2 linked regions of the Homo sapiens genome follow. The protein of the gene in region 2 purifies or fractionates together with the protein of the main gene of each other region. This does not show direct contact. Each region holds a gene or a part of one and is shown on either strand. Other genes may lie near its edges.

Evidence for each region.
Region 1: the proteins of KIRREL2 (region 2) and UBR3 purify together in Homo sapiens (affinity purification with mass spectrometry; one large-scale study listed by BioGRID and IntAct). This does not show direct contact.

Annotation. Positions count from the first base shown.
Region 1 is NC_000002.12:169,921,311-169,924,963, reverse strand, and holds part of UBR3 (E3 ubiquitin-protein ligase UBR3), read right to left. Parts: intron 1,036-3,653; coding exon 970-1,035; intron 881-969; coding exon 791-880; intron 1-790. UniProt on the Homo sapiens protein: E3 ubiquitin-protein ligase which is a component of the N-end rule pathway. Does not bind to proteins bearing specific N-terminal residues that are destabilizing according to the N-end rule, leading to their ubiquitination and subsequent degradation.
Region 2 is NC_000019.10:35,859,873-35,863,525, forward strand, and holds part of KIRREL2 (kin of IRRE-like protein 2 isoform c precursor), read left to right. Parts: intron 1-424; coding exon 425-530; intron 531-646; coding exon 647-795; intron 796-1,036; coding exon 1,037-1,164; intron 1,165-1,249; coding exon 1,250-1,382; intron 1,383-1,668; coding exon 1,669-1,769; intron 1,770-1,932; coding exon 1,933-2,152; intron 2,153-2,620; coding exon 2,621-2,725; intron 2,726-3,042; exon of another isoform or gene 3,043-3,054; coding exon 3,055-3,164; intron 3,165-3,653. UniProt on the Homo sapiens protein: May regulate basal insulin secretion.

The sequences.
Region 1 (3,653 bases), on a different chromosome or scaffold from region 2:
CTCCCAGGTTCAAGCAATTCTTCTTGCCTCAGCCTCCCGAGTAGCTGGGACTACAGGTGCACGCCACCATGCCCAGCTAATTTTTGTATATTCAGTAGAGACAAGGTTTCACCATGTTGGCCAGGATGGTCTCGATTTCTTGACCTCGTGATCTGCCCGCCTTGGCCTCCCAAAGTGCTGGAATTACAGGCGTGAGCCACCACACCTGGCTTCAAGCAGTCATAATTTTATGTTTCCTAACACCCAGAGTTCAAGTTCAATATTATAATAATTAACAAATCTAAAATTGCCAGGAAAAACAAATGGAAGTGCAAGTCCCTCTAATGTATATAAAAAGCTGGCCTGTCAAATTACATTGCTGGTATTAAAAGAAATCACAGTGCTTATATAAGCTAATTCTTCTCTCCTCTTTCTCCTCTCACTATACAGATAGGGAAACTGAGAATCAAGGAGGTGAATTACCTTAAACCTTGCGGAAAATAAAACAGTGGTAGCACCAAGGCTAGAATCTTTTGGATCTCCTGACTCCCAAAACAGTGCTATATAGTATGTTAAATACCACCCCATAAGCAAATATCATGAAAAGAATTCCTGGAAAAAGTAAAACTAAAAAGTAAATCTCATAAAATGAAAAATACCTAAACATAATCTAGCAAAAATACAATAACAACTTTTTAAAAAAAGTTTTCAAACATCTCAGCTATAATAACAATGAAAGGCATATAAATAAAGGAAGAATCACTTAAACAAGGAATCCACTTCAAAACTTTTTAAATGCCTGAATACATACTTGAATTTGGAGTGGGTGAATCATTAGTTTCATTAACATTTCCTGATCTGGTAAAACAGAATCCAAATCTAGTTCTTGACATTTCACAGCCTAAAAATTACAATAAAAAAGTTACTAATTCAATTCTTATTTCTGAAAATTAAAAAAAAAAGAACAGAATTGTTTAATGACAGTCTTACCTTACTCAAAAACATAGCATAGTAACGATGTAGTGGCAGATGAAAAGTGACTTGGTTAGGTGCTGGCTGGAATAAACAAACAAAATGCACAAGTCAAAGACTATTTTATAGAAATTTTAAGATGGTTGTAAAATGTTTAAACCATACTCTCACCTGGATTTATTCCTATACTTTTAGTTCAAAACTTAACATTTTAGAAGATGCAGATTCCAAAATCACTATAGATAAAATTTTTCCATTTTAAACACTTAAGTATAAGTTTCTTGAAGGCAGAAATTGTATTCTACTCAACTTTGAATCCTCTGAAGCATCCAGTACAGATTAATATTTCCTAAATTCAATTCAGCTAAAGCAAATAATTATTATTAAAACAAGGGATGGAATGGATTTCCAGCTACAGTAGACCATTTGGGACTCTTCAAACGCATGTATACCAAACATCATGACAGTAATAACAGTCACATATAACATTCATTGAACACTTCCTATGTGCCAGTCACCATGCTAAGCACTTTATTCACATTACCACATTTAATCCTCAGAAGAATGCTATGGGGTAGGAGCTACTAATATTCTCATTCTACAAGTAGCAAAATTCAAACTTAGAAAACTTAACTAACTTCCTAAAGTTCAAAAGTAGTGAACTGGGGAGCTAATCTGGACTCCACTGTCATATTCAAAACTGTAAGAAGACTCTGACCACATCCCTAAACAGAGGTATAAATGCAGGGCATCGTTAGATTCCTTCACCAGTTAGATAAGATGCTTCCAAACAGTACCAAACGCACCAGCCTCCATAACAAAACTTCATAAAAAATATGTGAATGACCTTAGGCATTCCTGTAAATATTACAAAAACTGTATTTTAAATCTGTGAATCCCATGGATCACAAAATCACTACAGGGCAAAAATACACCACAGCTGTCCTTCTTAAACAAATGAGTTAAGAACTGAAAAGGTATTGTTTGTTTTTAATGCTTTTTAAGTTCTTATTAAATATTCTCTTGTTAAAAATGTTTATCCCGGACATTCAGATAATTATGCTAATGTATATAATTTACATTATAGAGGTTATAAGGAGTCTAAATATGTCACCATCCCTGAAATAATTATTTTTTTCAAAACCAGTAAGATAATAATATCCTCTTCAATATGTAAAGGCTATAAAAATTTGTTCTAATAAATAAAAGTTTGCCCTCCATAAAAAGAAAGGAAAGTCTAACAATGTTCTGTAACATGAATAAACCTTCGGGATATTATGCTAAGTAAAATAAGCCAGTCACAAAAAGACAGTAACTATATGATTCCACCTATATGAGGTTCTTAGAGCAGCCAAATTCGTAGAGATACAAAGTAGAATGGTGGTTGCCAGAAGCTGGGGGAAGAGGAAATGGGGAGTAGCTATTTAATGAGTATAGTTTCAATTTTATGAGATAAAAAAGTTATGGAGATTGGCTGCACGACAATACAAATACACATAACACTACTGAACTATACACTTAAAAATGATTAAGATAGTGAATTTTATGTTTTCTGTGTATTTTACCACAATTAAAAATAAAATTTTAAAAAGTTTGCCCTCCATTACCATAATCGCCTTAGTAACATATTCTACACTAACTAGCTAAGTCAGAATCTCCCTCAATTTCCTTTGAGGCACTAAGCACAGTGGATAAGTGCAGACTCTTTTTTTTTTTTTTTTTTTAAATAGACAGGGTCTCACTCTGTGGCCCAGGGTGGAGTATGGTGGCACGATCACAGTTCGCTGCAACCTCCACCTCCCGGGCTCAAGTCATCCTCCCTCCTCGGCCCCCTGAGCAGCTGGGACTACAGACACACACCACCATGCCTGGCTAATTTCTGTTTTTGGTAGAGACAGGGTTTTTGCCATGTTGCCCAGACTGCTCTCGAACTCCTGGGCTCATGCAATCTGCCCGCCTCAGCCTCCCAAAGGATTGGAATTATAGACGTGAACCACCAGGCCCAGCCTAGGTGCAGACCCTTTTTTTGAGTCTCGCACTGTCCCCCAGACTGGAGTACGGTGGCGCGATCTCAGCTCACTGCAACCTCTGCCTCCCGGGTTCAAGCAATTCTCCTGCCTCAGCCTCCTGAGTAGCTGGGACTACAGGCATGTATTACCACACCGGCTAATTTTTGTATTTTTAGTAGAGACAGGGTTTCACCATGTTGCCCAGGCTGGTCTCAAACACCTGACCTCAAGTGATCCACCTGCCTCGGCCTCCCAAAGTGCTGGGACCAAAGGCGTGAACCACTGTGCCTGCTTCCTAAGTGCAGAATCCTGGTTCTACCACCCAGCTGTAAAACTATGGGCAAGTTACCTCTCTGTGCCTAAGTTGTCTGATCCTTAAAGTAGGAATAATAAAGAGTTTAGTAGCTGCGAGAAATAAGTAAAACAGCACAGTACCCAGTACATATTGCTATTAACTAGTAAGCCATGGACCCTATTTTATCTTTCAGGGCTTTAGCATATCCTATGTTCACATTCTCCATAACGTTAAAGTCCATATTCCTTCCTTGTCTAATGTCACAGACTGGCTACTTGATAAGCACTTCTTCTATTCCTATATATACTGAGAGTCCTTGGATTCCATTCTTCACTCTATAGTCTTCTATGTGAATTTATCCAGATTCACAGCTTCAGCTGCTAACTCTACCCAGATGA
Region 2 (3,653 bases):
CGTCTCTACTAAAAATACAAAAATTTGCCGGGCGTGGTAGCACACACTTGTAATTCCAGCTACCTGGGAGGCTGAGGCAGGAGAATCACTTGTACCCGGGAGGCAGATGTTGCGGTGAGCCGAGATCATGCCACTCAGCAGCAGAGTGAGACTCCGAGCAGGAGAGGACAGACAGCTGGGGTCCCTGGGGAAAGAGAAAGCTGGGCCTTGACTCTCACATCGGGGAGACTAGGAGAGGGCAGAAGGCTGGCACATTGAGGTAACTGGGGAAATTGGGAACTGAAAGCCCAGACTCCTGGCTCAAAGGGAGAAGGGGATTAGGGGCCCAGACTCCTGGGATGGAGGAACCAGGGACTGGACACCTAGGCCAGTGACGGAGGTGTTCCTGGTCCTTGCCCATCTGACCATTGTCCCACCCTCACAGACCCCCCAGAGGTGACTCTGTCTGCTTCGCCACACACTGTGCAGGAGGGAGAGAAGGTCATTTTCCTGTGCCAGGCCACAGCCCAGCCTCCTGTCACAGGCTACAGGTGAGGACGAAGACCCACCTCTCCCCAGCCCCAAGAGTGAGCTTGGGAAGGGCTGGGACCTGAGTAGGTGTGCCAGAGAGGCCAGGACAACGTTAACAGCGCCACCATTTCCTCAGGTGGGCAAAAGGGGGCTCTCCGGTGCTCGGGGCCCGCGGGCCAAGGTTAGAGGTCGTGGCAGACGCCTCGTTCCTGACTGAGCCCGTGTCCTGCGAGGTCAGCAACGCCGTGGGTAGCGCCAACCGCAGTACTGCGCTGGATGTGCTGTGTGAGCTGGGGCCGGCCTGTGGGTGTGGTCAAAGGTGGCCGTGGCTTTCAGGGCTGTTGAGGGTCGGGGCCTGGAGGGGCGGGGCCGGGAGAGCGAGCGTGGGGTATTAGGAGGAGGAGAGTGTGGAGCTGGGGCATATTCTTGCGCCCTAGAGGGTGTGGTGTTTCTGTGGGGCTGGCTGATCCCAGGTCAGTGGCTGCATTCCGCCCCGGCCATGTGACCCCTAGTCTCTTTCGTCCAGTTGGGCCGATTCTGCAGGCAAAGCCGGAGCCCGTGTCCGTGGACGTGGGGGAAGACGCTTCCTTCAGCTGCGCCTGGCGCGGGAACCCGCTTCCACGGGTAACCTGGACCCGCCGCGGTGGCGCGCAGGTACAGCCCTAAATCTGAGGCGGTGGCTGGAGGGGGACCAGGCTTCCTTACAAATCCGGCTTCTGACGCCCCTTCCCTGTCGCAGGTGCTGGGCTCTGGAGCCACACTGCGTCTTCCGTCGGTGGGGCCCGAGGACGCAGGCGACTATGTGTGCAGAGCTGAGGCTGGGCTATCGGGCCTGCGGGGCGGCGCCGCGGAGGCTCGGCTGACTGTGAACGGTGAGAAGGCGGGGCTTCCTAGGGGACCTGGCCCGTCCTGGGATAGGGAGCGGACAGAGGGGGCAAGGGCTAATGCAGTGGGAGTGGCCTGGAAGGAGCTTTACACCCAGCGGGGGCTGGAGACCGGACCTATTGAAGGCGAGGCTTTTAGGAGAATCGGAGTTTGGAGGCGGCGTGGCCTGATTGATTGAGGTTAGCGGAGAGTGCGCTGGACAGACCCGGCTTTGTTACAGCCTTTGGGGAGGGCAAGACCTCTCCTCTGAGTGACCTACAGTCTCCATCCCAGCTCCCCCAGTAGTGACCGCCCTGCACTCTGCGCCTGCCTTCCTGAGGGGCCCTGCTCGCCTCCAGTGTCTGGTTTTCGCCTCTCCCGCCCCAGATGCCGTGGTAAGGAAATGTCACTCCTCCCGTGACCCATCCAGCCGTGATCCCTGACCTCCCACCTGGCCCCCCGAAACTACTGTGACCATTTCTGACTTCCCAGACATCCCTCCTGCTTCTTCCTCCCCTCCTCAGTCTCCTCCGTGTCCTCCCTCTTTTGTGCCCCCAGGTCTGGTCTTGGGATGAGGGCTTCCTGGAGGCGGGGTCGCAGGGCCGGTTCCTGGTGGAGACATTCCCTGCCCCAGAGAGCCGCGGGGGACTGGGTCCGGGCCTGATCTCTGTGCTACACATTTCGGGGACCCAGGAGTCTGACTTTAGCAGGAGCTTTAACTGCAGTGCCCGGAACCGGCTGGGCGAGGGAGGTGCCCAGGCCAGCCTGGGCCGTAGAGGTGAGACCCCAGCCCGAAGACCCCAAATCTGGAGAGTCTAAACCCCACAAACGCAGGGATCCCCCAGCCGAGGGCTGCAAAACCTCATACCCTCAAATGCAGAGGAGACCTCCAAACCTCGGGAGTCTCAAAACTGTGGGCTCATTGATTCCCAAGACACCCCTCAACCACAAATGCCTTCACATTCTGAATCCTAAACTGAGAGACTCCTCACACCTAGGGGCCCCAAAAAGGGAAACTCCAATGATTGCAAAGCAAATTGCAAAGTAAAGGACCCCTCAAATTCTAAGACTCCCTAAAGCCAGGGAGTTTAAACTCACTCTCAAACTTGGGGAACCCCAAATTCAAGGGCCTTTGAATCTTCAAATGTGCGACCTTTTGAACCCAGGAATCCCAAACTCAATCCCTGAGCCCCCGCTTCCTGGTTCCCCCTCAGCCTTCTCAGGATGTCCCCTCTGCTCCCTGCAGACTTGCTGCCCACTGTGCGGATAGTGGCCGGAGTGGCCGCTGCCACCACAACTCTCCTTATGGTCATCACTGGGGTGGCCCTCTGCTGCTGGCGCCACAGCAAGGGTTAGTGCCTGAGCCCCGCCCCGGCTCCCGAGGCCCCAGCCCCACACGCGCCCTGCCTGCCCAGTGACCTGACCTGGCCTTGGGCCTTGGCTCCAGTCCCATTTCCAGCTCTGCACAGGGCTTAGCTCTCCTTCACGTTCTGGTTCCCTCCTTAAGCCCTAACTAGGCCTTCCCAGGGTCACACTCCTCGGTGGGAATGATTCTTATTGGTTTCCAACAGCCCTACCCAATCAGCCTCATTGGTTCCCAGTCCTCTCTCTTCCCGCTTATTGGTCTGCACACATTGTGACCCCGCCCATCGCTTAACTCCACCGGTCGCTGTTTGTCAGCCTCAGCCTCTTTCTCCGAGCAAAAGAACCTGATGCGAATCCCTGGCAGCAGCGACGGCTCCAGTTCACGAGGTCCTGAAGAAGAGGAGACAGGCAGCCGCGAGGACCGGGTAGGATGCCAGGGTCCCCAGACCTGACTGTGCCTCCAGACCTAAATAATAGCCCAGTCCCAAGAGGGTCCCCAAATTCAAATAGGACTCTAAGGCCAGGCATGGTGCCTGACGTTGGTAATACCACTTTGGGAGGTGGAGACACAAGGATCACTTAAGGCCAGGAATTCAAAGCCAGCCTGGACAGCATAGCAGGACCCCATCTCTACAAAAATACAAACTAAAATAAAATAAAAAATGAACCGGGTATGGTGGCATACACCTATAGTCCCAGCTACTCAGGACACTGAGGTGGGAGGATCCCTTGAGCACAGGAGGTAAAGGCTGCAGTGAGCTATGATTGCACCATGCACTCCAGCCTGGGCTACAGAGCAAGACCCTGTCTCCATTTTTTTTTTTTTTTTTTATGTAGGAGGGCTCTAGTCTTTTTTTTTTTGGCAGAATTTCACTCTGTCACCCAGGCTGGAGTACAGTGCTGCGATCTCGGCT